Linked DNA regions of Homo sapiens: region 1 is linked to region 2. The links come from fine-mapping of genetic effects on gene expression. A gene starts in region 2. The other region holds a variant in brackets. All regions are shown on one strand. Distances are from middle to middle.

Region 1 (15,292 bases), 46 kb before region 2:
GCAACTGAGAGGACACTTTAACCATTTTATTTACATTTCATCTTTATATGACTGAATAACATTACATCAATCAGAAGTCTTTATTGGCCAGGAGCAGTGGCTCATGCCTGTAATCCCAACATTTTGGGATGCCAAGGCAGGAGGATTGCTTGAGTTTAGGAGTTCAAGACCAGCCTGGGCAACACAGCAAGACCTCATCTCTACTAAAACCCAAAAAAATTAGCCAGGTGTGGCGCTGTGTGCCTGTAATCTCAGCTACTGGAGAGGCTGAGTCAGGAGGATCACTTGAGCCTGGGATATGGAGGCTGCAGTGAGCTATGATCACATTACTGCACTCCAGCCTGGGCAACAGAGCGAGACCCTGTCTGAAAAAAGGAAAAAAGAAAAAGTCTACACCTTTTGTTATTCCTAGCTGAGTAAGTAGTACCACAGCTGTGTCATGAAGAATTGGCAAGTCAAGTCCCAGATCCTAATGTTGAAATAAATGCTGGTAAGATAAGCTAGGCTGAAACGCAGTTAGAGCCATGAAATTCCTGAGAGGACCATGTTCTGTCCCAACATATGGGAGCCCCCATGTATTTCACACTCTCCTGTCTTCTCCCCACTCCTCAGTCCTCTTCTAAGTCCTCTTAGATTAAATATAATGGAGAATTTTTTAAGATGATGCAACTTGTTGTAGACCTTTCATAGTGTTTCAAAGTGAGTACTACTGGTATCTTGGGCAAGGTGGTTCTTTCTTTATATATAAAACTGCATTTCAGCCGGGCGCGGTGGCTCACGCCTGTAATCCCAGCACTTTGGAAGACCGAGGCGGGCGGATCATGAGATCAGGAGATTGAGACCATCCTGGCCAACAAGGTGAAACCCCGTCTCTACTAAAAATACAAAAATTAGCTGACTGCGCTGGCGCGTGCCTGTAGTCCCAGCTACTCCGGAGACTGGGGCAGGAAAATCCCTGGAACCTGGTAGGCGGAAGCTGCAGTGAGCCAAGATCGCGCCACTGCAGTCCAGCCTGGGCAACAGAGCAAGACTCCGTCTCAAAAAAAAACAAAAAAACTGCATTTCATTATGTCTGGTATCTCTCATCCCAGACACTAAATGCAGTAGCAACTCCCTCTGCTGTCAGTCCTGGTGACAACTGGAAAGTGCCCCCAACATCATATTACCTCTAGAGGGCGGCAGCTTCCCAAATGGAGAAAATTGATTGGCAGTTGATTTCTAGTTTTTATTTTGGAGGGAATGAAATACCATTTATTTTATAAGTTAAAATTGTGTCTGGGTGCGGTGGCTCACACCTGTAATCCAACACTTTGGGAGGCCAAGGTGGGTGGATCACCTGAGGTCGGGAGTTCGAGAGCAGCCTGACCAACATGGAGAAACCCCATCTCTACTAAAAAAAAAATACAAAATTAGCCAGGTGTGGTGGCACATGCCTGTAATCCCAGCTACTTGGGAGGCTGAGGCAGGAGAATCGCTTGAACCCGGGAGGCAGAGGTTGCGATGAGCTAAGACCGTGCCATTGCACTCCAGCCTGGGCACAAGAGCAAAACTCCATCTCAAAAAAAAAAAAAAAAATTATGGTCATTATATTTCTACCTATGGTTGAAAACAGGAGTTCACAGTTCAGAGCTTAGGCCAGGATATTTAGGTAGAATTAAAACAAAAAACAGGCAGGAAAGAAAGCCAGCAAAGGGTGAACTGGGCCTTTGTGGAGAAACAATCTAAAAACTGACTACTATCACCCTGACAACTTAAGAAAATGTATTTCAGAAAACAGGGCTCACACCCATAATCCAAACACTTTGGGAGGCCAAGGCAGGAGGATCCCTTGAAGCCAGGCATTCAAGACCAGCCCTGGCAACATAGTTAAGACCCTGTCTCTACAAAAAAAAAAATTTAATTTAGCTGGGCATGGTGACACCCACCTGTAGTCTCAGCTATTCAGGAGGCTGAGGTGGGAAGATCCCTTGAGCCTGGGAGGTTGAGGCTGCAGTAAGCCATGATTGCACCACTGCACTCCAGCCTGGGTGACAGAGCAAGACTCCATCTCAAAAAAAAAAAAAGCAGGAAAGAAAGCCAGCAAAAAGAGTGAGAAAGATGCTCTATGCCTAGAATTAGTTGAGGACTTCTACTGGGATCTGGTATTAATTTATTCCATATTGTGCCTCCAATTTAATGCAGCCTAGGATCACTGCTAGGATCAAGTGTTTCCTAGTAGATTTTCCTTTAAGAAAGTTCCATTACTGTATTGGTGCAGTAGTGCATTGCTTAGCAACAGGGATGTGTTCTAAGAAATGCATCGTTAGGCAATTTCATCTTTGGACAAACATCATAAAGTGTATTTACACAAACCTAGATGGTATAGCCTACTCTACACCTAGGCTGTATGGTATAGCCTATGGCTCCTAGGCTACAAACCTGTACAACATGTTGCTGTACTGAATTCTGTAGGCAATTGTAACACAAATCATTAGGCAATAGGTATTTTCTGACTCCATTATAATTTTACCAGACTACGGCTGTATATGTGGCCCATTGCTGACCAAGAAGTCATTATGCGATACATGACTGTACTTCTTTATCCATTAATCTGAATATAACGACATCTTTTGAATCAGTAGTCACTTACACTATGACAGGGTACAAGAATTAGTGGGCTCTTCTGGCCAGGAACGGGAGGAGAAATTAAGGGCAAAGTACCAACTCCTCACTTCCACAGATCACAGAGGTGGTTAGGGGTTGCTAGAAAACAATGAAGCAAGTTTATTCTAGATTGTTTACCTGGCTCTGCAGCACTGTGGTGTTGAGCATGTCACCTCTTTTGTATTCATGACACCCAAAAGAAGTAAAATAAATTCCATCAAAGTACTTTTTGACTTTTATGTGATATTAGGTTCAAAGTTTTATTTTAAAAAGTTACACGTAATCCCTCTGCTTTTCCCCCCTCTAATTAAACTAAAATAACAACATCTTCTTCAAAGTTACTAAGACAAATTAAAGTTGTAATATGTTTTGTATCTTTAATCACCATAAATGCCAAGCTGTGCCGATCACTAAGTCTTTACTGTATAGTTCCCCAGAGTCTAGTTTATTTAACTTGAGACACTCACTTCCCATAACAACCAAGGAGAAGCGGAGTAGAGATGCAATCTTGTGTGCCTGTGTCTCTAGTGTTCAGACTCTTCTTGCACAATGGACATAGGCTGGTTTCCTGCAGCTGACTAACATGGAGGAGCTCCAGCTGTGTCAGCCATGACAGAGTTGTTATTGCTTCACTGAGTAAGCACCCAGCGCGCAAGCTGAGGCGGGCTGTTTCATAGACGGGCTCGGATCATTTACCCTGGCTTCCCTCCCACTTGGCTCTGTGTCGTGGAGCATTAGAATCATTTCCATTCTTTCTCAGCTGTTCCATTTTCTTTTGGCCACTTTCCTCCTCCCAGGGGGATTGTTTTCTCTCAATTGTCAAAGAGTAATGCTTAAACATTAAAAACAAGATTTCAGACTCGTGAATCAAATCGATGACACCTCTGCCTGCTCTGAATGTCTCTCTGTCATATTATCTGCCCCCATTAAGACCTTGTCGTGAGAGGGGAATGGTTCAAGATAGGTTTTTTTGTTTTTTGTTTTGTTGTTGTTGTTTTATTTTTTCAGAGACAGGGTCTCACTCGGCTGCCCAGGCTGGAGTGTAGTGGTGTAATCACAGCTCAACGCAGCCTTGACCTCCTGGGCTCAAGTGATACTCCCGCCTCAGCCACCCGAGTAGCTGGAACTATAGGCAGGTGCCACCACACCCAGCTAAATTTTTTATTTTTGTAGAGACAGGGTCTCACTTTGTTGCCCAGGCTGGTCTCAAACTCCTAGCTTCACCAATCCTCCCACCTCAGCCTCCCAAAGTGCTGGGATTACAGGTGTGAGCCACCACACCAGGCCAAGATTACTATTTTAACATCATATTGCAGTGATGCCTCACCTTTTCCCTTCATGTCATGGAGTTTCATGATCTGAATACTCCTAAGTGTATCTGGATCATCCTCAAAACACCCACTGCTTGGATTCCCAGGTTCCTGCTTTCAAAAGCTGCTTTTGGCTTCGCAAATAATTCTCCGAATTTACCTACTGTGTAGTCAATCTAGTGGGAGAATTTATTTGGTCTTAATATTCTTATTGGTAGATGCTGTAATAGTATGATGCTTAATCACAGACACCGTCAGTACCTCTACCTGGTAGCTGTGGTAAATTGGAAAAAACTGAGGTCACACATACACAAAACAAGCAGACACGTTAGAGAATACATCATCATGTGTCAGGTGATATTGGAAGTGAAATATATGGAAGTGAAAGACTGCCAAGATCCTTTCTAACCTTTCAGTAAGCCCTAGAAAATAGCAGGCATGGCTGGGCGTGGTGGCTCACCCCGGTAATCCCAGCATTTTGGGAGGCCGAGGCAGGTGGATCACGAGGTCAGGAGTTTGAGACCAGCCTGGCCAACATAGTGAAACCCCGTCTCAACTAAAAATACAAAGGTGGCACATGCCTGTAATCCTAGCTACTCGGGAGGCTGAGGCAGGAGAATTGCTTGAACCTGGGAGGCAGAAGTTGCAGCGAGCCGAGATCGTGCCACTGCACACCAGCCCCAGGCGACAGCGTGAGACTCCGTCTCAGAAAAAAAGAAGAAAAGAAAAAGAAAATAGCAGACATTCAATGAATGGATCAATAGAGTGAGAGGATTTTTTTGTTTGCTTGGTTTTTGCCTTCCCTGGAAAATAGGGAAAGAGCAAACTTAAATTTGCTTAGTAGCATTTACACTAACCTCTTATAGAGTTTCTTCCTTTCCTGCATAAAGCCAGTACCTCATGGTTGTTGTATTTCAGACTTCAGATTACTCGTAGTTGCTATAATCATATGATAGCCCATATATCTTTTTACTCCTTTATACTTATATAATAATAATAATAGCTATCACTTATATAGTAATAAAATGAGCCAGGCACTCTTTCAAGTGCTTTACATATATTAACTGAATCCTTACAGCAACCCCATGCAGAAATACTATTATTACCCACATTTACAGATGAGGAAACTGAGGCACAAATAACTTACCCAGGATCTAACTAATAAGTGATGGAGCTGTGATTCAAACAAACCCAGGCACTCTATCTCCAGAACTCATGTGGGGCTTCGTTGTTTTATTTTGAAAAAGGTTCTCACTCTGTCACCCAGGCTAGAGTGCAGTGACACAGTCTCAGCTCACTATGGCACCCACCTCCCAGGCTCAAGCAATCCTTCCATGTCAGCCACCCAAGTAGCTGGACTACAGGCACACGCCACCGCACTCAACTAATTTTTTAATTTTTTGTAGAAACAAGGTCTCACTATATTTCCCAGGCTGGTCTCAAACCCCTGTGCTCAAGCGATCTTCCTGAGTTGGCCTCCCAAAGTGCTAGGACTGCAGGTGTGAGCCACCGTGTGCCCAGCCTGGGGTTTTTAATTATAACAGACTTTGTTTTCATGTACAGTTCTATGGATTTTATCACACGTATATGTTTGTTTAATGACCACCATAATCACAATATAGAACAGTTCTGGCCGGGCACAGTGGCCTGTAATCCCAGCACTTTGGGAGGCTGAGGCAGGTGGATCATGAGGTCAGGAGTTCAAGACCAGCCTGGCTAAGATGGTGAAACCACGTCTCTACTAAAAATACAAAAATTAACCAGGCATAGTGGCGGGTACCTGTAATCCCAGCTACTCATGAGGCTGAGGCAGGGAGAATCCCTTGAACGCGGGAGGCAGAGGTTGCAGTGAGCCAAGATCACAACACTGCACTCCAGCCTGGGCAACAGAGTGAGACTCCATCTCAAAAAAAAGAAAAAAAAGAACAGTTCCATCAATATCCATGTCTTCAACCACTGCACAGTAATTCCTCTATATACTAAAACCCATCAACAAATCTAAAGGTGAGAATTTTTCAACCTTAGGAAGGAAACCTACTTTGAAGACCTTCAAAGATAATAGCACAATTCTCTCGGGAATTCTGGACAACTACCACTTAATCTCCTTCTGGCTTCCTTTGAATTCTACCATATATAATTTCTCCCTGAGCATTTGTCTCAGAGCAGTGTGTGTGTGTGTGTGTGTGTGTGTGTGTGTGTGTAATGTGCTGTGCCCTTGCTGTCTTACTTCAGCACTGCTGCCCAAACCAAAACAGGTATCCCAGTTTGATTTCCATGCTCTCTCACCACCTCAGATGGCTTTAAATGGACTGTGCTTCCCTGGCTGGCTGGGAATCTTTCACATTGCTGATGAGCTTGCCAAGTACCACGGACAGATCACAGCATGCATGGAAATCCTTACCCACAATTCTGATTAAGAAAATAGTAAATTCGATATACAGAAAATTTGGGAAGCAAACATCCAAAAATTACACTAAACTATCATAGAAAAGAGACTGTAATTTTTCATCCTAATCCTACTCATGAGATTAGAACCGGTGATCCCCATTTACTTGCAAATCAAAAAGCCTCAAAAACCAATTTGATAATTTGGCCCTGAACTTGTTTAAATGCCCCTGCTTTTCCTACTTGTGTAGCTCTCAATCCAGTTGCCTGTTTCTTGCTACATCTTACTGACTTTCCCTAAACAGGAGTTACTGGGTTGTCCAATTAAAAGCTTTCTATTATTGCAAGTTTTGCTCAGCATTTAGCATTTGACCTAAATAGATTTATCTTTTTTTTCCCTGTCTTCGACTTTAAACTCTGTGGTGAGGCCGGGCACGGTGGCTCACGTCTGTAATCCCAGCATTTTGGGAGGCCAAGGCAGACAGATCACCTGAGGTTGGGAGTTTGAGACCAGCCTCACCAATGTGGAGAAACCCCATCTCTATTAAAAATACAAAATTAGTCAGGCATGGTGGCGGGCGCCTGTAATCCCAGCTTACTCGGGAGACTGAGGCAGGAGAATCGCTTGAACCCAGGAGGCGGAGGTTGCAGTGAGCTGAGATCGCGCCATTGCACTCCCGCCTGGGCAACAAGAGCGAATCTCTGTCTTTTAAAAAAAAAAAAAAAAAAAAAAAACTATGGTGAAATACTCAACAGGAAGGCAAATTAAAGAAATGGGGCTGCTTTCCTTTAAAATACCAGATAAAAGATGTATTTTACTGAAACACTAGCTTTTTCATTAGATAAATAAAGCTTTATGTAAAGCTAATTCTGAGAAATGTGTTAAAATTTTTCAGCATGGGAACGTGGACAAGAGACTGTTCAACAAAGGAGAACAATGTGTAACTGTCCCATGTACCCACTAACTCCCCCGTTGGGCATGGAGTAAGTCACTTCTAGGTACAGTTGCTCATTTGTTCGTTGAAAATGCTTCTTTTTTATTAACTAGGTTTGAGGACATGATTAGGTTTATATCCACATCTATTGCTGAATAACAAACCACCCTGAAACTTGGTGACTTGAACCAAGCGATTATTTGCTCCCATTCTTTAGTTTGGCAACTTAATCTAGGCTCCGCTCAATGGTACTTCTGCTCTGTGGCGACATGCATTTGCACACAGCACACAGCCAGGCTGACCTCACGCACAGGAGTTTCAGCTGAGATGGTTGTAACAGCTGAGCAAGTGAGGCATTTTCCATTGATCACTCTCTCTTCCAAGGGTCTCATCCTCAAGTAGGCTAGTTCAAGCTTGTTCACAAGGTGACAGTGTTCACAAAAAGCCTGAGAGTAGAGCTTGCAAAGCCTCTGGAGGCCGAAGCTCAAAGTCACACAGTGCCACTTCTGCTGCATTTATTGGTCAAAGCAAGTCACAATGGCAGCACAGATTCAAACATGTACTGGAATTTGTGGCTATTTTAATCCATCACAAGCTTTTGGCGTTGATCACCCTGAAGAAAATACAAATATAATGTGCTATCTAATTGGCCTATAGAAAGTGAATCCAGGCCGGGCACGGTGGCTCAA[G/A]CCTTTAATCCCAGCACTTTGGGAGGCCAAGATGGGTGGATCACGAGGTCAGGAGTTCGAGACCAGCCTGGCCAATATGGTGAAACCCCGCCTCTACTAAAAATACAAAAATTAGCTGGGTGTGGTTGCGTGTGCCTGTAGTCCCAGCTACTCAGGAGGCTGAGGCAGAAGACTCGCTTGAACCTGGAACCTGGGAAGTGGAGGTTGCAGTGAGCCGGGATTGCACCACTGCACTCCAGCCTGGGCGACAGAGTGAGACTCCATCTCAAAAAAAAAAAAAAAAATCCAATATAAATCTATCAAATAAGAAATACTGAGTCCAGGCACAGTGGCTCATGCCTGTAATCCCAGCACTTCGGGAGGCAGAGGCAGGTGGATCACCTAAGGTCAGGAGTTCGAGACCAGCCTGACCAACATGGTGAAACCCCATCTCTACTAAAAATATAAAAAGTAGCTGGGCATGGTAGTGCATGCCTGTAATCCCAGCTACTCAGGAGGATGAGGCAGGACAATCGCTTGAACCTGGGAGGTAGAGGTTGTGTTGAGGTAAGATTGCGCCACTGCACTCCAGCCTGGGCAACAAGATGAAACTCCGTCTTAAAAAAAATAAAGAAAGAAAGAAAAGAAAAGAAAAAAAGAGAAATATTATCCTAATTTAAATTTACCTCAGAAGTCTGATACACAGAGCTGCTATATGACGAGCAAAGAAGTGGGGAGAGATTTTCAGCTTTTGATTTTATCATAAATCCTTTAGGAATATTTTGTTTTTACTTATTAATGTGTACATATTACTTGGGTAAATTTCAATGAAAAAAAAAATCCATGCAGACTCAATTCTGGGCTATCTCTCCCTCTAGCTCCAGTACTTATACTAGAAGAAAGCTATCCTAGGAAGTCCTCTACCTGGGAAGTCTCTGTAATGGGGAAGGTAATGAGAACACAGAAATGAAGGGCCTTCATGTCTCAAAATAGTATCCTACTGCTCTCCAAGAAAGAAAAATGGACAAGGGTTTGAGGCAGAGTTCAAGCTGAGGGTCCTGAAGCCATACAAACTCGTTTCTTTTCCTGGCTCCATAACCAGGGAGAGAGGTGGGGAGGCCGTGTGGCTGGAAGTAATTTCAGAACCCCTTTTAGCAGTGGCCATCTGCCAGCATTTTCGCATCTCTATCCCTCCCCTCCCCACACCCGCTTGTCCTGCCAGAGCACACTGGGCCCATACTGAGACAGAAGGGGAGGCAGGGAACAAGGAGAACCATATAGGAGGTCCCTTTGTTCCTAAATCCATCTTCAACTCCATGTTTTACTAGAATCTTATATTGGGGCTGGGTGCAGTGGCTCACGCCTGTAATCCCAGCACTTTGGGAGGCCGAGGTGGGCGGATCACGAGTTCAGGAGATCAAGACCATCCTGGCTAACACGGTGAAACCCCGTCTTTACTAAAAATACAAAAAATTAGCCGGGCGCGGTGGCGGGTGCCTGTAGTCCCAGCTACTTGGGGGGCTGAGGCAGAATGGTGTGAATCCAGGAGGCAGAGCTTGCAGTGAGCCAAGATCGCGCCACTGCACTCCAGCCTGGGTGAAAGAGCGAGACTCCATCTCAAAAAAAAAAAAAAAAAAGAATCTTATATTGGGGTATCTAGAGATGTGATAGTGTTGAAATCCAAAAAGAAACTACTTGAACTGTCCCCATCAGTTAGTGTAAAAACTATCAAGATGAAAAAAACATTGGTCAAAAAGGTGTAAAGCCAATTTTTTTTTTTGAGATGGAGTCTTGCTCTGTCGCCCAGGCTGGAGTGCAGTGGCACAATCTCGGCTCACTGCAACCTCCACTTCGTTCAAGCGATTTTTCTGCCTCAGCCTCCCGAGTAACTGGGACTACAGGCGTGTACCACCATGCCTGGCTAATTTTTGTATTTTTAGTAGAGACGAGGTTTCAGTATGTTGGCCAGGCTGGTCTCTAACTTCTGACCTTAAGTGATCTGCCCACCTCGGCCTCCCAGAGTGCTAGGATTACAGGCATGAGCCACCACACCTGGCCAAAAGGTGATTTTTAAATGCTTTATGAATTAATTTCATCATATATTTACAAGGTTATTAAGTTTGAAGAGGCCACTTACTCTAATGAAAGTGATCAAGCATTCTGGCAAGACTTGAAATCTGGGGATCTGCATAGGTCTCAGGGAATATCTTGAGATTTTCCAGGTTCTGCTACAAGGCACATTGCCCACATAGGTATGAATGTCAGAGGTGTGTGAACCAGAGCAACTTCATCTTAAATAGGAGCTGGGTAAAATGAGGCTGAAACCTACAGTGCTGCATTCCCAGATGGTTAAGACATTCTAAGTCACAGGATGAGACAGGAGGTCAGCACAAATTACAGGTCATAAAGACCTTGCTGATAAAACACGTTGCAGTAAAGGAGCCGGCCAAAATCAACCAAAACCAAAATGGTGATGAGAGCAACCTCTGGTCATCCTCACTGCTACACTCCCACCAGCGCCATGACAGTTTACAAATGCCACAGCAACATCAGGAAGTTACCCTACATGGTCCAAAAAGAGAAGGCATAAATAATCCACCCCTTGTTTGGCATAGGAATAACCATAAAAATGGGGAACCAGTAGCTCTCGGGGCTGCTCTGTCCATGGAGTAGCCATTCTTTTATTCCTTTCCTTTTTTTTTTTTTTTTTTTTTTTTTGAGATAGAGTCTTGCTTTGTCACCCAGGCTGGAGTGCAGTGGCACGATCTCAGCTCACTGCAACATCCACCTCCTGAGTTCATGCAATTCTCCTGCCTCAGCCTCCCGAGCAGATGGGATTACAGGCATGCACCACCATGCCAGGCTAATTTTTGTATTTTTAGTAGAGACGGGGTTTCACCATGTTGGCCAGGCTGGTCTCGAACTCCTGATCTCAAGTGATCCACCCATCTCAGCCTCCCAAAGTGCTGGGATTACAGGGGTGAGCCACCATGCCCAACTCCTTTACTTTCTTAATAAACTTGCTTTCACTTTGCATTGTGGACTCGCCCTGAATTCTTTCTTGCGTGAGATCCAAGAACCCTCTCTTGGGGCCTGGATCGGGACCCCCTTTCCTGAAACATATTTCTGGTGACCACAGAAGAGACTATAGTGCAGAAACCTTGACCCAACAGCTACCTTTGGGTGAATGTTGGGGTCCTGTAACATCTTTCTGGTGACCAGGGAAGTGACTATACTGCAGGAACTCCCGACCCAAAGGCTAACATTGGGTAAGTAGTGGGGTCTGGTAACATCTATCTTGCAAACCACAAAAGGGGCAATACCGAGGAGACCCCCTGACCCAAAGGAAATAGACTCCAGCAGTGATTGGACGACTTTGGGTAAGTGGTGGGGTACCCAGGTAAAGAATGGGATTGGGTTAGAGACCCAACTTAGGGGAGTTAGAGTCTCCCCTAAGACAGAGTAGTTTAGAGGCCCCTCTTAATAAAAGGCAAGGATGCTTGACTAACAGCGGGTTAGAGTCCCTTCTAAGATTTAGGGGGTTAGAGACCCCTCTCAGTAAAGTCTACCTCTCAACTAAAAGGGGTTTGGCACTGCAGGCTACGCTCTTTGTATTAATCTGCCTTGCATTCTTTGCTGATGGCTGTGGGTGACAGGATTAGGTATGTACAGGATCGTGGGTCATGGGGAGCTTTTTCCTCCCTATAAGGGGAAACTTGAGAGCTGATGCGACTGCCGGAAAAGATACCTTCATGACAGCAGCCGCAGACACCTGAACTTTTCAGTGTTGCTGCAATGGGTGGGTCTTTCTCTGGCCTCTCTGAGCATTTTGCCTTCCCCACCCTGCCACAGGCAATGCTTTTTTCTCTCTCCTTTCCCTTTTTTTTTTCTTTTTAATCTTTTCTGCTACTCAGGGCAACCATATTGCCCAGAGTCCATGTGTTGAAACTCCAAGTCGGAGGCTGGATTAAGGATGACAGGGTTGCCGGCCGCGGTGGCTCACACCTGTAATCCCAGCACTTTGGGAGGCCAAGGCGAGTGGATCACGATGTCAGGCATTCGAGATCAGCCTGGTCAACATGGTAAAGCCCTGTCTCTACTAAAAATACAAAAATTAGCTAGGCGTGGTGGCACGTGACTGTAATCCCAGCTACTCAAGAGGCTGAGGCAGGAGAATCACTTGATCCTGGGAGGCGGAGGTTGCAGTGAGCTGAGATCATGCCACTGCACTCCAGCCTGGGTGACAGAGCAAGACTCTGTCAAAAAAAAAAAAAAGGAAAGAAAGAAGAGAAAAAAAGATGACAGGGTCCATCTAGGGGCAAATTTAAGCCTTGCCAGTTTGATATTGGGTGCTAAGCAGAATGGCTAATGTCTATGTTTTATCACACATATTTTGCTCTAGCCAGAACAAAAAAAAAATTTACCTTTATGATGCTGCTTGGCCCCCAGGGCGATGGTGCCACAAGCCACATCACTAGGGCCACTCAGGGAAAGGGAACCCAGAAGCCTGGCATCCCGGGAAAAAGATAAGAATTTCTTACCAGTCAGATTTCTGGTTTCTCTCTGAGCAAACAGTTGAATGAATGGTAAAAAAAAAAAAAAAAAAAAAAGTTAATAGCAAAAAGAAAAAAAGTCTTATCTGAAATTCCTTCTATGGAACAGAGTTCCATCAAAGCCAATTTAAAAAGAGCTTATGTAAAAAATAATTATTCTTGCTGCACTTTATACATATAATCAGGCCAAGTATAATAAAGCAAATCAGTCTTATCATGATTTCTCTTTAGTAAAAATAGGAAACTGGAGAGAAATATTATGTTTCAAGAACTATGCTACACTTGTTATTAAATTCTAGTCTCATTAGTTATTTTTAAGTTTGTTTCTGCGATTTAGGCTAACGTTGCTTATTCCTGTGAACCAAGCAGTAATCTCTGACTGCTGCTCTGAAGAAACAAGAGGATGGGTAATGTAAAAATCTGGATCAATATTCTTATTCTGGACACATTACAATCAGCTAACAACCCTGTATCAGCTTAGTTCCAACAGTTGCCCAGTTCATGAAAAGCCTTCTAATTTAGTTTACTTGGAATAACTTTACTTATTTTGCTTTACTCTTGTGCAATATATTGCTGTTATACTCTTTGTGTAGGAATACAGGACAAGCTTACTAAATATTTTCTTAAACACTAATCTTCCAGATATCACCTTTTGTCAAAACTCAAGAGTTATGAATGGACCTTACCATACTGATGCTTTCTGACTGAGCTCCTCTCTACCCTAATTAGCAAGAGACCCTCATAGTTAGGCAGAAATATCTTCGCCCCCTATTCAGCCTGAAGAAGTTACAGAAGATAGATCTTAATCCCCCTGCAACCTTTAGGATTAAGGGTTCTCCTATAAAAGGGCCGGGGGAAATGTCAGAGGAATGTGAACCAGAGCAATTCCATCTTAAATAGGAGCTGGGTAAAATGAGCTAAAACCTAAGGTGCTGCATTGCCAAATAGTTAAGGCATCTATGTCACAGGATGAGATGGGAGATCAGCACAAACTACAGGTCATAAAGACCTTGCTGATAAAACAGGTCGCAGTAAAGGAGCCGGCCAAAACCCACCAAAACCAAACTAGCGACGACAGTGACCTCTGGTTGTCCTCACTGCTACACTCCAACCAGCACCATAACAGTTTACAAACGTGAGGAAGTTACCTTACACAGTCTAAAAGGGGAGGCATGAATAATTCGCCCCTTGTTTAGCATGTCATCAAGAAATAACCACAAAAATAGGCAACCAACAGCTCTTGGGGCTGCTTTGTCTATGGAGTAGCCATTCTTTTATTCCTCTACTTTTTTTTTTTTTTTTTTGAAACGGAGTCTTGCTCTGTAGCCCAGGCTAGAGTGCAATCTTGGCTCACTGCAAGCTCCGTCCCCCGGGTTCACGCCATGCTCCTGCCTCAGCCTCCCGAGTAGCTGGGACTACAGGCGCCCACCACCACGCCCAGCTAATTTTTTTGTATTTTAGTAGAGACGGGGTTTCACCATGTTAGCCAGGATAGTCTCAATCTTCTGACCTCGGGATCCGCCCGCCTCGGCCTCCCAAAGTGCTAGGATTACAGACGTGAGCCACTGCGCCCAGCCATTATTCGTCTACTCTCTTAATAAACTTGGCTTTCACTGCGGACTTGCCCTGAATTCTTTCTTGCGCGAGATCCAAGAACACTCTCTTGGGGTCTGGATCGGGACCGCCTTTTTTTTTTTTTTTTTTTTTTTTTGAGACAGCGTCTCATTCTGTTGCCCCGGCTAGAGTGCAGTGGCGCGATCTTGGCTCACTGCAACCTCCGCCTCCCACGTTCAAGCGATTCTCCTGCCTCAGCCTCCCGAGTAGCTGGGACTACAGGCAAAGGCCACCACGCCCGGCTAATTTTTGTATTTATACTAGAGATGGGGTTTCACCGTACTGGCCAGGCTGGGGGATCCCTTTCTTGTAACATGAGTACAGCCCAGGAGAGTCTGGGCTTTGCTCATACCAGAGTCTTCTGGTATCTCCAGAAGAGTCCTTTCCTCTGGAGTTCATTGACTTGAGGGACCACGGCCCTGAAATCCCTGTCTTTATCTGAATGGGGTGGACGGATCTTGCGCTGCCTGCTGTAAGCCATCTACCCACCAGAGACAGAACTCCAGCAAGCCTCAGTGAAGAATTTAAAGGTGCACGCGCGTGTGTGTGCCCGCACGTGCATACACGCAGGCATGCCCTGCAGATGAGGAAAACACCCAAAAGGTGCAGGATTAAGACAGAAAATGCAGCTGGGCGCGGTGGCTCACACCTGTAATCCCCGCATTTTGGGAGGGCGGATCACCTGAGGTCAGGAGTTTGAGGCCAGCCTGGCCAATATGGAGAAACCCCATCTCTACTAAAAAAAAAAAAAAAAAATACAAAAATTAGCCGTGCGTGGTGATGCATGCTTGTAGTCGCAGCTACTCAGGAGGCTGAGGCAGGAGAATCGCTTGAACCCAGGAGGTGGAGAGTGCAGTGAGCCAAGATTGTGCCAATGCACTCCAGCCTGGGCAACAAGAGGGAAACTCCGTCTCAAAAAAAAAAAAAAAAAAAAAGAAAGAAAGAAAATTCCTATGCCTATTACTGCTATCAGTGCTATTACTGCTGTGGCTGGTCATGAAACAGGAGAGGACAGCACAAAAAGCAGCTTACATTTTTAAAAGATTTAAAATTAAGCAAAATACAACACAAGGGTCCAGTGGACACCAAGCAAGCAGATAGCCATTTGGGGGACATTTGTTGCTCTCACGGCTTCCTGCTTTCTAGAGTCAGTTATTGGTTCTGGGACACCAAGAGACACTGGC
Region 2 (15,292 bases):
GGCGTGGTGGCACGCACCTGTAATCCCAGCTCCTCGGGAGGCTGAGGCAGGAGAATCACTTAAGCCCTGGAGGCAGAGGTTGCAGTGAACAGAGATCACGCCATTGCACTCCAGCCTGAGCAACAGAGCAAGACTCCATCTCAAAAAAAAAAAAAAAAAAAAAAATACACACACACACACACACAAAATTGGCCAGGCGTGGTGGCTCACGCCTGTAATCTTTGGGAGGCCGCGGCGGGTGGATCACTTGAGGCCGGGAGTTCGAGACCAGCCTGCCCAACATGGAGAAACCTTGTCTCTACTAAAAATACAAAATTAGCAGGTGTGGTGGCGCATGCCTGGAATCCCAGCTACTCAGGAGGCTGAGGCAGGATAATTGCTTGTACCTGGGAGGCGGAGGTTGCAGTGAGCCGAGATTGCACCATTGCACTCCACCCTGGGCGACAAGAGTAAAACTGTCTCAAAAAAAAAAAAAAAAAAAAAGTTAAAAAAAAAAAAAATCAGAATGAAGGTAATACTGGGGAAAAATAAGCATTAAGACCAAATAAACCAGGCCAGGCTTGGTGGCTCAGGCCTGTAATCCCAGCACTTCAGGAGGCTGAGGTGGGCAGACGACCTGAGGTCAGGAGTTCAAGACTAGCCTGGCCAACACGGTGAAACCACATCTCTACTGAAAATACAAAAATTAGCCGGGCATGGTGGAAGGCACCTGTAATCCCAGCTAAATGAATATGGTGTACTTATTTATGAGTTTAGTATATATGATGGCTGGGATTTAAGATATTGTAGGTAAGGCTGGTTTAGTCTAACAGTCTGTCTAATTCAAACTGTCAAGTGATTAATGGGGTTGTGTCCCCAAGTAACTTTCATTTCCTACTTTATGTATTTTTGTAATGCTTGACCTTTACTTCTGAAATCGAATGGTTTCAAAGCATCGAGACAATCAATCACAGCTTATGACAAATTCCAAAGGGACTACAAATTCTTTTACTGGACTAAATTTTAAAGCATTCAACACATGAGCCATCCATCTGCTGGGGCTTAGCAATCCTGTAACAGAGGTCACTCTTGTAATGGAATTTCACCTGCAAGTTTTATTGTTTAAGCCTGCCAGTTAATAGTTTTAAGTATCTGGGATATAAAAAATAAGTAAATAAAATAAATTTTTAAAAATTAAGTCGCTGGATACGGTGGCTCACACCCATAATCCCAGCACTTTGGGAGGCTAAGGGCAGATTACTTGAGCTCAGGAGTTACAGACCAATCTGGGCAACATGGCGAAACCCTGTCTCTACCATACAAATATCAGCCAGGTGTGGTGGCATGCGTCTGTGGTCCCAGCTACCTGGGGGACTGAGGCGAGAGGGTCACAAGTCCAGGAGGTCAAGGCTGCAGTGAGCAGTGATCTCGCCACTGCACTCCAGGATGGGTGACAAAGTAAAACTATCTCAAAAAAAAAACTGGCCAGGCGCGGTGGCTCACGCCTGTAATCCCAGCACTTTGGGAGGCCGAGGCAGATCACGAGGTCAGGAGTTCGAGACTAGCCTGGCCAACATAGTGAAACCCCATCTCTACTAAAAAAACAAAAAATTAGCTAGCCATGGTGGTGGGCACCTATAATCCCAGCTACTGGGGAGGCTGAGGCATGAGAATCGCTTGAACCTGGGAGGTGGAGGTTGTAGTGAGCCGAGATCGCGTCACTGCACTCCAGCCTGGGGCACAGAGGGAGATCCTATCTCCAAAACAAAACAAAACAAAAATTAAGTCTACCACTCCACTTAAAGCAGCATCAATTCCCCTCCTCAGTGTCCCCTTTACCAGTGGGGTTCAGTCCTGTCAAGTGCCAACTCCTGTAAGAGGAGACCTGAGGCAAACAGCATCCCACACCCCCTATTCATTTGTGACCCCAAGAGTAGAGTACTGGATTATTCTCTATCCATTCATCAGGACCCAAATGTACCAATTCTTACCAAGAAAATGTAACAGAAATGTCCAAATGAGCTACCAATAGTTAAAAACATTTATTTGAAAAATGAGGCCCCTCAATTACAATATTTAAAACCCAATTTAAATTTTAAAAAATTAGGGTGTGGTAGGGCACATCTGTAGTCCCAGTTACTTTGGAGGTTGAGATGGGAGGACTGCCTGAACCCAGGAGGTAGAGGCTGTGGTGAGCTGTGATCACACCACTGCCTGGGCTCCAGGGTGAGACTCCATCTCAAATAAATCAATAAATGAATAAATAAATCCAATTAAAAAAACTACAGTGAACAGCAGCTGAATAAAACCCAATTTAAAAGTGAATGACTAGTATGCACAGTGGCTCACGCCTATAATCCCAACACTTGGGAAGACTGTGGCAGGAGGATCACTTGAGGCCAGGTGTTCAAGACCAGCCTGGGCAACATAGTGAGACCCCCCATCTCCACAAAAAGAAATTAAAAAAAAAAAAAAAGTTTCGGCTGGGTGCGGTAGCCCACCCCTATAATCCCAGCAATTTAGGAGGCCAAAGTGGGTAGATCACCTGAGGTCAGGAGTTTGAGACCAGCCTGGCCAATATGGCAAAACCCCATCTCTACTAAAAATACAAAAATTAGCCAGGGGTGGCACTCACGCCTGTAATCCCAGCATTCTGGGAGGCTGAGGTGGGCGGATCACGAGGTCAGGAGTTCAAGACCAGCCTGGGCAACATGGTGAAACCCCATCTCTACTAAAAATACAAAATCAGCTGGGTGTGGTGGTGGGCACCTATAGTCCCAGCCACTCAGGAGGCTGAGGCAGGAGAACTGCTTGAACCTGGGAGACAGAGGTTGCAGTGAGCCAAGACCATGCCACTGCACTCCAGCCTCGACAACAGAGCCAGACTCCGTCTCAAAAAAAAAAAATTAGCCAGGCACGGTGGTGGGTGCCTGTAATCCCAGCTACTCGGGAGGCTGAGCCAGGGAGGCTGAAGCAAGATAATCACTTGAACCCTGAGGCAGAGGTTACACTGAGCTGAGATCTTGCCACTGCACTCCAGCCTGGGCGACAAAGCCAGACTGTCTCAAAAAAAAAAAAAAAAAAAAAGTTTCAACTTTTTTTATACAGTTGCGCTTAGTATCAGTTCAAACACCCTAAACATAATTGTCTGAAAAATACATTTTCTACAAGTGTTTGCTTTCATAGGAAAATAGTTTCAATTGGTGATAATCCCACCCACCTTTTAAAAACTACCTTCTCACATTTCTTTTTTGTGGACAAAGACAAGTTGTTCCATTTAGGAACTCAATGCTATAAGTCAAATGTTTTAAAGTTTGAGGCTTTTGTTAAGTGGGCATGTGCAAGGTTAATCACTGAGTTTTCCTTTTTATATAAGCCCTCAATTTCTTTCAGAAACTACACTGCATCTTAAATGTGTTCACTGTCACAGAAATAAATACACAAACTTTTTTTTTTCTGTTTTCTTTTTGAGACGGGGGTCTTTCCACGTTTCCCAGACTGGTCTAGAACTTCTGGGCTCAGGCAGTCCTTACGCCTCGGCCTCCCGAGGTGCTGGGATTACAGGCGTGAGCCACCATGCACGGCCAGTCTAACTTGCTGAAGGTAAACCCCAAGTTAGGATATGTACTTTAGTAAGACCACGGTAAGATCTCTTGGCTGTTCCTCTGTGCTTTACATGTAACTTCACATAATCCTCCCAACCTAGATATTGTTACTCCATGGAGAAATTTCTGAACAAAGAGGTTAAACAACTTGTGCAAGGTCACAAAGATAGCAAAATGGAACCTGGATTTGAACCAGAGTCCTTTTTCTCAAGCACTACTTAACTAACCACTCAAGTAACAATCAGAAAAGAGAACTGAACTTATGGACTAGAAAGCTTCTCTTACCTGTATGAGTTCTAACATGCTGAACATAATTGTTTTTTCTGTCTGAAAAATAGTTGCATTTTCCACATGTGTATACTTTCCTTGGAAAATGGTTTCTTAAATGTTTCCTCCAGTGATACTCGCTCACTGTTGTGTATGTGCAAATGATACACTTGTAGACTCGCTCATTATCCCCAGCTCTGGTGTGGTGTTTCAGGTGTGCTGTATAGTGATCATATCGATTAGTATTGTAGCCGCAGCGGTCACAGCGAATGGGGCCCTTGGAGAAATCTCCCTCTTCTGCAGTGGAAGAGCCAGATTCCCTGGCTTTTGCCTGCTTCTCTGCACTCTCTTCCACAAAAAATTTCTTAGCACTGTGAACTCTGATGTGATGCACAAACTGTTCTTCAGATTCTGCTTCATATTGGCATGGCTTACAGCGAAAGGGTTTGGTCTTCGAGCTCTTGCCTTTGTCCTCCGCTCCAGGTGTTTCAGGGGGAAGATCTTTATTTGAACTGTAAATATCTGGAGCACCTGATGCCTCAAATACAGGCTGAGGTTCTACGACGCTGAGTTCCAAACTTCTCAGTTCCATGTTTTCCAGTCCATGAGGTTCACCTTTTATATCAGCAGACTCTTCAAGTCCTTCTCCTTCTTCACTATCTGAAAAGTTGTTATCCCCAACCGGCATCAGTTCTGCCATCTGTCTTTCTTCACCGACCAGGTAATCACAGCAGCTGCCATTTACTTCCCCAGTTAAGGCCACATTTGCCAGCATAATAAGCTGAGGTGCGGCCAGTTCAGCTTTGGAAAGGTCATGCAAGTCATACATGTCGTTAGGCAGGGCCATTCCAATGTTGCCACTGCTGGTAAACAGCCCTCCTCCTCCAGAAGACTGCCCCATTACCTGGGTGGCCATAACTGTATTCTGAATTAAAAACAAAACAAAACAAGAGCACCAGTTTAAACACTACTGTTACTGGCTTAAAACCACATCGCTGTAATTCTTCATAACTTAAAAATTTTCCAGTATGATCTTTATAACTCAGTAAACTTCATCGCCTATTAAAAACAAATCTTTAAAATAGTTGTTAATTCCCAATAGTCTACTGCAATCACCAAAAAAAAATTTCTACTATCCCTATAAAACAATTCTACCAATTGTTTGCACAACTCATTCATCATTCAGCCACTGGCATGTGGTGCCTCCTCAAGCACTTTTAATTGTTCTGGTGGGGATAAAAAGTAACCTTCATTTTTACTGTTAAAATTATTTTAAAAATTCAAAACATGAGTAGTAAATTATTGTCCTCCCAACTTTTCCCCCCTTCAACAGTTCAATGGTCTGAATCAGAAAGCCCAGAAATCCACAAGCCATTCAGTGCATTTATTAAGTACACAAACACATCTGGAAAGTACAAGCCTGTAATAATTGTTCAACTTAATTGGATTTCGCATGAACTCAACTAACTCCAAAAGAATAAACTACTGTGAAAAAGTAGCAGTCAGCCCCTTAATTTTTCGACAACTCCACAGGCTTAAAAGAAAAAACATTTATGGACCCCTTTTCTTGTGAAAAAGGAAGTTTGATTTATTCAAAACTTCACAAATAAAAATTAATAAGCTTATTTTTCTGCAGGCTGAAGTTCCACAACACTGAATTCCAAGCTTTTCAATACGAATAAAATCATCGTGCAACTCAACTCGACAATCAGCAACTTTCTTGCATTGTGCTTGACTTGGCCTACTTGCCTAGTGGAAGCCATTACAAGATCACCTTCTTCAAAACAAGTTGGGCTTTCTAGATGCTACGTTACTTCTCAATCTAAAAGGTGCCATTCTCAAACGAAGTGTTCACTCGCAAATTAAAAAAAGTAAGAAGTTCTAAGAAAATAAAGTTAAACCGAAAATACAAAAAGTAACCCGCTTCACCCAAGTGTATAAACACAAACCGGTTTAGTTCTACGTACCAACAAAAGTTGGAAGCAAATGCCATCACAGAAAACAGAGGGCGAAGGCTGTCCCGGGGCTGAACAGCCCAAGCTATTGGGTAATTTGGCCCAACATCGACTTTTCTAATTGCTCCCTAACCCCTAACTGCCACCCCAAATGGAATTTTAACGATTGTTAGGAAGACCGTCCAGGCACAGCCCGAAAGCCCAACGTGCTGCACGAATTCCTCCGTGCTGCTGCCACCAGCGCCTGCCTCGGCGGCGGCATTCCTAACTGAAATAGGCATTCGGCCATTTTCTCAAAATACCAAACACAAAGCAGCTCTTTGCAAACTCGGGCGCTCTCGCTTCCTCTCGCCTCGGCCCGCTCACTGCACACATTTACACACCAACTCGCGGGAGTCGCCCCGACACTCGTCCTGAGCCTTTTCCTGCGCTCTCCAACACTAAAACGGGGGAGGGGATCAAGCTCGAGGCGCTGTTTGGCCGGAACCAGTCCTCCCCGAGTCCAGGCAGCCCCCTCCCCAGCCCTAGGGCCCCCGTCCCGGGAGAGGACGGAAAGTTACCGCGCAGCCGGCGTCCGGGCTTCTCCGACCGCCCCCGGGCCCCTCCGACCGCCCCGGGGCTCGCCCAACGCCCAGGGCCGGGGAGGCTCCGCGGGCGCCCTCGCGAGGCGTCGGGCTCCGAGCGCCGGAGGGGGCCCCCACACGGGCCAGCCGCCACCCCCGCGCCCCGGAAGTTTGCGAACTTCACTCCCCCACGGCGCCCGGCAGGACGCGCGCCCCAGCCCCGCCAGCTCCAGCGGTCGGGTGGCCGGACGCGGGGGCCAGCGGCGCCGGACGGCTGAAGCGCAGAAATCGCTGTCCAGCCCCGCAGGCGGAACCGCCCGGGCCCCGGGGCTGACTCAACCCGCCCGGCCGCACTCAACGGCGCCTTCCGGCGACAGGGAGAGGCCCTGGGGGAGGGGGCCAGGAGGGCCGCGGGCCGGCGCGGGGCTGCGGTGGGACCCGGGGGCAGGAGGAGGAAGCAGAGGAAGTTTCAGGACTACGGGCCCGAGCAGCTCCGCTCCTTGGCCTCAAAGGACCTGACTCGGTGGAGCGTCCGGGCCAGCGCGGAGGCGGCGTCCCAGCCTCCAGTGGGGAGGGGGTCCAGGCGACGCGCTGCTCCCAACAAACGCCCCCAGCCCCCGGGCGGCTGCTGTGTAACCCGATCCTGCTCGGCCGCCAGCCCCCGCCCGGCGGGGCCGCCGCCGCCGGAGCCACAGTATCTGCAAATCAGCCCTGGACAGCGCCTGACTCCGCGTCCTTCCGCGCCCTCCCCGTCCCGCCACTGCCGCCGCCCGGGCGGCCCTCCCCCACCCTGACCGAGCCCCCAGCCCAGCGCCCCACTTACCGGCCTTCCTCGGTGAGGAGGGGCGGGCGACCCTGAGTCGCCGCTCCTTCTCCGACTACTTTTCTTTGTTGCTGGAGTTTCGGGGGAGAGGTGGGGGAGGGTGGTAAAGTTGGGTGCTGGGGCCGTCGTGGACCAAGAAGGCCCAGGAGTGGGGCTGCAGAGGGTGCTCAGGCCTCCGGGCCTCGCCCTGCCGTCTCGGCTGCGGCAGCCGCCGCCAGGGTCTGGGGCCCCGGGCCTCGGCGGCGCTCGCTCCGCTGCTGCGCCGCGAGCTCGCGGCAGCCGCACATTCCAACACAGGACGCTGCGCCGCGCACCCAGTCCGCGCCGCCGCCGCCGCCACCGCCCGCGGGACACGCCCCCTCCGACGCCCGCGCGCGCCCGCGAGACACGCCCCCTCCGACGCCCGCGCGCGTGGCCGCTAGGCGCGCCCCGCCCCTCTACCAAGCAAGGAGTGCCCCAGTCTCCAGCTCGCCTGGGGGCGCGTCTAGGGGGAGCCGCCCGTAATCCTCCCGGCCCCTCACTCCTGCCCTTAGGTCAGAAAAGAGGCGGGCCCCACTCCCTTTCTCGATTTCTATTACAAACAAACAACAAAAGTTCCCCCCAGCCCTGGCGTGCATGCATGAGAATAGAGCTGTTAAAAGAAGAATCCGCAGGCTTTGACGGGTCTCTTTAGAGCTATTGTCACCGGCCTCTCAAGTCTAAAGCGCTCCAAGATACCCTTCAGATCTCTTCAAGTCTCCACCCATAGCTGTCCTTGACTAATTAAGCTTCGTTTTAAGCGTCTGCGGTAAAAAAAAAAAAAAAAAAAAAAAGTCTTCCAAATTTCAAACTACCGGAGGGGGAATGCAGTCAGTTTGGGAGAAGTGAGAAGAAAACGTTTCAGGAAGGAGGTTATGGACTCAGAAAGCGTGAGCGTGAGGACTGAGGGGACAGATCCCTAGACGTGGCAGGTAGCAGGTCATTGCTGAGCCCGGAAAGCACGACTGCAGGGGAGGAATTACCCTCAGATGACAGAAGAAAAGGTGGTGAGGACGGGGAGGCTGCCTGGGGCCACGGTGTGTCGGAGTAACCGGGCTCACGTCTATGAAGCGGGATAACCAAGCGGAATGCCTAGCCCATAGTCATGTGCTAACAAAAACAAAAACAACAAAAAAGAACAGAGAGAGAGTAATTCCACCCCCTTTCACACCTGAAAGAGCTTCTCAGTCTGCCTTTGATACCTTCCTAAACGTCAGTCGTAAGTCACACCTGTCCTCAGAAGCATAGTGGCTCCCCATGACTACAAGCTTAAAGCTTAAACCCCTTAGTGTGGCGTTCAAGCCCCTACTTAACTTGACCTAGATAAGTCTGACTATTGCTTGGTATTACAACATAAGTAGCAAGTGCTATGGGGGTTTGCCAGTAGGAAGATGGATCCCAAGAGGTTCTAGAAACTTTTCACAGTAGATGTATTCAGTCTGACCTTGGAGAATGAGGAAAACTTCAACAGGTGGAAAGTAGGGCAAGGAACACTCTACACAGTGAAAAGGGCAAGCTCAAAATCCCAAAGCAGTTGTTAAGACATCCCAGCTTCTCCTCAGGGTACCTCACTTCCTTCTCTTTGAAGTTCCTTTATTTGTTTCTCTTAGGGCAGGGCTTCCAGACTCTTCATTTCCTGGTATACCCACGTAGGACCTCTGTTTCCCTCTATCTGGACAATATATTACTAATTAATGCAGTCTCCGATGCAAGATGAAATGAAGACCCTAAGGTGCTCGACCACCAAAAGTTTCAATGAGGCAATTTCAAATGTAACACCTCTCCATGAATCAAACCTGAAAAGTATTCATTTTCATTGAACCAAAGAGACAGGAAGGAAGGGAGGGAGGGAGGGAGGAAAGGAAGATCGACATTTTTAGGACTGGTACAAACTTTTCTATATATATTTTATTTGTTTAACTAAAATCAAGTTTGAGGTCACATGGCTTTTTTAGATGCTGTAGCCCAGGGTACAATTCAGGCCTCTACCAAGGTTGTCAAAGACATAAACTTGTTTTCTTTCCCTTTTTTAGGTCCAAAAAGGCAAAAATGAAATGTCTCTTGTTAAACTTACTAAATGTCCTTCATTTCCTCAATCTGACTGCTTACTGGAAATGTCTTATTAATTGCAAATTTATTCCCACATATTGTGATGCAAATAGAAGAATGGCGAATGGGCAGCTGCATTCATTTAAAATTAGCAGAGGCCCTTGTTCAAGGGATGGCATATTCAGAGTGACCCAAATTATCATGACATGAAGGCCACAGGTCAAATTCATAGGCCAAATTACAAATCAATTGAAAATTTTCTTGAGGGAAGCTGTTGCTATGAACTTGAATTCCTAACTGTTTTTCAAAAGTCTGTATTTTACTTTGCTGTATCCAAACTTTAGGATCTTCTGCAAGATAAAAACTCTGAAATGAGAATGAGTTCTGCTTTTCTTATATGGTTTTTTTCCTGCATATTTAACTCATCAATTTTTTTATTTTAATTATCATATGTTCTTAATAGTATTTTCTCTAGAGAGATTTCTTTCTTTTTTTTTTTTTTTTTTTTTTTGAGACAGAATTTGGCTCTTTTTGCCCAGGCTGGAGTGCAATAGCACGATCTCGGCTCACCGCAACCTCCGCCTCCCGGGTTCAAGCAATTCTCCTGCCTCAGCCTCCCGAGTAGCTGGGATTACAGGCATGTGCCACCACGCCAAGCTAATTTTGTATTTTTAGTTAGAGACGGGGGTTTCTCCATGTTGGTCAGGCTGGTCTCGAACTCCCAACCTCAGGTGATCCGCCTGCCTCGGCTTCCCAAAGTTCTGGGATTACAGGCGTGAGCCACCACACCTGGCCAATTATATATATATATATATATTATTTTTTTTTTTGACATGGAGTCTTGCTCTGTCACCCAGGCTGGAATGCAAAGGTGCGATCTCGGCTCACTGCAACCTCCACCTCCCGGGTTCAAGTGATTCTCCTGCCTCAGCCTCCCGAGTAGCTAGGATTACAGGCACGTGCCACCTTGTCTGGCTAATTTTTGTATTTTTAGTAGAGATGGTGTTTCACCATGTTGGCCAGGCTGGTCTTGAACTCTTGACCTCAGATGATCCACCTGCCTGGGCCTCCCAAAGTGCTAGGATTACAGGTGTGAGCCACCCCGCCTGGGAGTCTTGCTCTGTCGCCCAGGCTAGAATGCAGTGGCAAGATCTTGGCTCACTGGAACCTCTGCCTCCTGGGTTCAAGCAATTCTCCTGCCTCAGCCTCCCGAGTAGCTGAGATTACAGGCACCCGCTAGGACGCCCAGCTAATTTTTGTATTTTAGTAGAGATGGGGTTTCACTATGTTGGTCAGGCTAGTCTCGAACTCCTGACCTGAGGTGATCCACCCGCCTCGGCCTCCCAAAGTGCTGGGATTACCTGTGTAAGCCACCGAGTCCAGCCAGCATCATCTACTCTTGCTGCCGGTTGGACTCTGACCTCTTGTTCTGGTTCTGATAACTGGAATAGTGTCTTACTCATTATAGGCATCAACAGCTTGAGCCAGGGAGGTTTTCCCTTCATGCTGAGAAGGGAAGGAGGTGAACAAGAGAACTTGAGACTTGAGCTGGGCTCCTTCCTGCCTTCTTTTGGAGCCTAGATCACATTTGGAACCCGCTCCCATTTTCGTCCAATCCTAATGCCCTTCCCTGCTGTTTCTGCTCCCATTTTCGTCCAATCCTAATGCCCTTCCCTGCTGTTTCTGTCTCTAACATTTATTACTAACATGCTAGGTATTTTTATTTATTTACCCTACTTAGGAACTTAAGCTCCAGAAAGGCAGAGACATTTTTTTATCCCCAGCACCTATAACTCGTTAGTTGCTCAACAAATATTAGTTAGATGAATGGTTACAAAATCCTAGCTTGGTATCACAATCTCTCAAAGTGGGGACCATCCTTACCCATGTCGGTACCCAACGTTCAGTACCCATCACAGTCTTCCCTCATGTTAAGCATGAGCCTGCCTCCTTGAATCTCCCTAATAACTACTGTTAAATAAATTAATGCTCCTGGATCCCTGGTCTTGGGGTTCTACCCTCCTGGTGAAAATCTCCCTGCCTGCTCTTCTGCATATTGTATTCCTAGCACATTCCTGATTTCACGCATCAGCCTCTGGTTGGATATTCCTTGGTGATCATTAACAATCTGTTTTGGCCAGGTGCGGTGGCTCACGCCTGTAATCCCAGCACTTTGGGAGGCTGAGGCAGGCAGATCACCTGAAGTCGAGAGTTCTAGACCAGCCTGACCAACATAGAGAAACCCTGTCTCTACTAAAAATACAAAATGAGCTGGGCATGGTGGCACACGCCTGTAATCCCAGCTACTTAAGAGGCTGAGGCGGGAGAATGGCTTGAACCTGGGAGGCGGAGGTTGCGTGAGCAGAGATCGTGCCAGTGCACTCCAGCCTGGGCAACAAGAACAGAACTCCATCTCAAAAAAAAAAAAAAATGTTTCAACCTTAGGTATCGTTCCATTTGATGGGTTTAAATACAAGTTACATAGCCTATCAACTGCATTGCTCTGCCTCTCTCTTCTCTGGCCTTTACCATTGTCCTTCCTTCCAGAATTCTCCCTCCAAATGTTATGTAGGCCACAAAATGTCACAAATGCAAGAGATCTTAGAGGTGCAGGCTCTTGTTTTATATGTAAAAGGAGACAGGCCTACAAGCTTTTGGCTTGTCCAGGTTTGCACAAGTAGTTAGGGCACAGATGGAGGTAGGACCCATGACTCAATTTCCAGCCAGTCCGGTGCTCTTTCCATGTCTCTCAGACACTTTGTCCAGTCTTCTTTCTGCTCTACCCTGGCCCTATTCCCGAAAACATCTTTTAATCTTTGGGGCCTGATGGGCCACTATGTACAATGGCTTTAGAGATGTATATATTTGAGATAGGGGGACTTTTCAGATCCGCAATTCCATAACTCTGAAGCCTACTTTTTATATTAAGATTAATTACCTTCTGGGCCAGGCCCAGTGGTTCACGCCTGTAATCCCAGCACTTAGGGAGCCCGAAGTGGAAAGATCACTTGAGCCCAAGAGTTCGAGACCAGCCTGGGCAACACAGTGCGACCTCATCTCTAGTAAAAATAATTTTTTAAAAATAGCTGGTGTGGTGAGGTGTGCCTGTAGTCCCAGCTACTTGGGAGGCTGAGGTAGGAGGATTGCTTGAGTGCAGGAGATTGGGGCTGCAGTGAGCCAGGATCACACCACTGCACTCCAGCTGGGTGACACAGCAAGACCACGTCTCGAAAAAAAAAAAAAAAGATTTATTACCTTCTGGCTTGGGAAGCAGAAGCCCTTATTGTCTTCCATGGCATTTAAAACACTCAAGAGCCAACATTGACATGTTAATTTACAAAGCTAATCATCAATTTAGAGGAATATGGACTTGACTCAGAAGACAACTTCTGGCAACCTTTCCCTTCTTCCCAAGGAGAGGTTAAAACCTTCCCACATGAACTCCTAAAGTGCCATAAGTATACTCTTGCGCCTGTTTTCTTTCCCATGTCTTTCTCATCTGTCTGAGAGGGTCTAGAGACAAGAAACTGTGTTGTGTGTTCTCAACATGCTGATATTCCTGACACAGTAAATAAAATCAAACTTCTGGCAAAGTGTATCAACCCAAAGCTAAAGCCAGGCACTGGCTTTATGCATAAATGTTTCCTAGATTAATGAACCTGTACATTTTCCTTGTTTGTCTAAAAATTATCACTAAACCTACTAGAATGGCTAAAAGTTTAAAAAGCTAAGTATAAAATGCAACAAGGGCTGGGTGCGGTTCTCATGCCTATAATTCCAGCACTTTGGGAGGCCAAGGGGCGCAGATCACTTGAGGTCAGAAGTTCAAAACCAGCCTGGGCATCATGGCAAAACCCTGTCTCTACCAAAAATACAAAAAGTTAGGTGTGGTGGTGTGCACCTGTGATCTCAGCTACTCGGGAGGCTGAGGTGGGAAGATCACTTGAGCCCAGGGGGTGGAGGTTGTAGCAAGCTGAGATCGAAACACAGCACTTTACAGCCGGGCACAGTGGCTCCCACCTGTAATCCCAGTAGTTTGGGAGGGCGAGGCGGGCAGATCACGAGGTCAGGAGATCGAGACCTTCCTGGTTAACACGGTGAAACCCTGTCTCTACTAAAAAGTACCAAAAAATTAGCCAGGCGTGTTAGTGGGCACCTGTAGTCCCAGCCATTTGGGAGTCTGAGGCAGGAGAATGGCGTGAACCTGGGAAACGGAGGTTGCAGTGAGCCAAGATTGCACCACTGCACTCCAGTCTGGGCGACAGAGCGAGACGCCGTCTCAAAAAAAAAAAAAAAAAAAAACAATGCGACAAAGATACTGAGCACCTGGAATTCTCTCTCTCTTTTCCTCTCTCTCCCTCTTCTCTCTTGAGACAGGATCTTGCTGCATCACCCAGGCTGGAGTGCAGTGTCATGATCTCAGCTCACTGAAACCTCTGCCTCCTGGACTCAAGCGATCCTCCCCCTTCAGCATCCCGAGTAGCTGGGACTACATGTACGACCTACCACACCCAGCTAATTTTTTAAAATTTCTTTTTTGTGGAGACATAGTCTCACTATTTTTCAGGCTGGTCTTGAACTCCTGGGCTCAAGTGATGCTCCCACCTTGGCCTCCCAAAGTGCTGGGACTATAGGAGTGAACCGCCTGCCTAGCCTATGACTCTAATATTGCTGATGGAAATGCAAACTGTTGTTAACAACTTTGGAAATGCAACACTTTTGCAAACTTGAATTTTCTTATAGACACTTAGCATATAATCCAGTCATCACATTCCTAGATATTTACACAAGAGAACTGAAAACCTGTGGTACCTAAAGACCCAAATGGGAGGTGTCTAACAACTAGAAACAACCTAAAAGTAGTCTAGACTGTGAATGAAAAGCAAATTTGTATCTACCCATTCAATAGAATGATATTGTTGGGGAGGAAAAACTTTTCCTCTATCCTCTTAGGTTGTTTTTTTTTTTTTTTTTTTTGAGACAGAATCTCACTCTGTCACCCAGGCTGGAGTGTAGTGGTGCGATCTTGGTTCACTACAACCTCTGCCTCCCATGTTCAAGCGATTCTTCTGCCTCAGCCTCCTGAGTAGCTGGGACTACAGGCGCACACCACCACGCCCAGCTAATTTTTGTGTTTTTTGTGTTTTTTGAGATGAAGTTTTGCTCTTGTTGCCCAGGTTGAAATGCAACGGCATGATCTTGGCTCACCACAACCTCCGCATCTCCACTTGCGGGTTCAATCGATTTGCCTGCCTCAGCCTCCCGAGTAGCTGGGATTACAGGCACACGCCACCACACCTGGCTAATTTTGTATTTTTAGTAGAGACGGGGTTTCTCGATGTTGGTCAGGCTGGTCTCGAACTCCAGACCTCAGGCGATCCACCCATTGTCTCAGCCTCCCAAAGTGCTGGGATTACAGGCGTGAGCCACCGCTCCCGGCCTATCCTCTTAGGTTTAATCATTGGCGGCATGCAAATCAAATTGACAAAAGACATACTGGCAACATAAAAGACAAATTTTTTTTTTTTTTTGAGACAGAGTCTCTCTATCCCCAAGGCTGGAGTACAATGGCGCGATTTCAGTCTACTGCAACCTCCTCCTCCTAGGTTCAAGTGATTCTCATGCCTCAGCCTCTGGAGTAGCTGAGATTACAGGCACCCGGCACCATACCCAGCTAATTTTTGCATTTTTAGTAGAGAGCCTTTCACCATGTTGGCCAAGCTGGTCTTGAACTCCTGACCTCAGGTTATCTGCCCGCCTCAGCCTCCCAAAGTGCTGAGATTACAGGCATGAGCCACTGCTCCCAGCCCAGAAAAGACACAATTAATCATATATTAAATGTACATAAAAGATTTGATCAAAAAATGTGATTCACGGGGCAGTTGGAATCTGGGCCTATATACCAACTTAATAGAGGAAGGAGAGAGGGAAAAGGGCACTTAGGAGAAAACAAATGACTTTTTGGAAAGACAAATGGGCTTTAGGAGAATAGATGGGAGATATGATAGTTTTGTAACAATGCCTTTTAGATGT

Evidence for each region. PIP is the estimated chance that this variant, and not a neighbour inherited with it, causes the effect.
Region 1: its variant is fine-mapped to the expression of REST in nasal epithelium (TOPMed, PIP above 0.99).

What each region holds. Positions count from the first base shown.
Region 1 is chr4:56,946,299-56,961,590 of GRCh38, reverse strand. No RefSeq gene overlaps it. Among named protein-coding and RNA genes, the nearest start is that of NOA1, 24 kb to the left of the region's middle. The variant G/A (reference allele first, on the strand shown) is at 7,963.
Region 2 is chr4:56,900,114-56,915,405 of GRCh38, reverse strand. REST (RE1 silencing transcription factor) reads right to left here and starts at 7,506. Exons shown (of 4, transcript NM_005612.5): 1 at 7,193-7,506; 2 at 3,870-4,776. The coding sequence starts at 4,767. RefSeq lists enhancers at 138-638, 5,260-6,189, 7,120-8,049 and silencers at 6,280-7,129, 7,240-7,629, 7,729-8,023.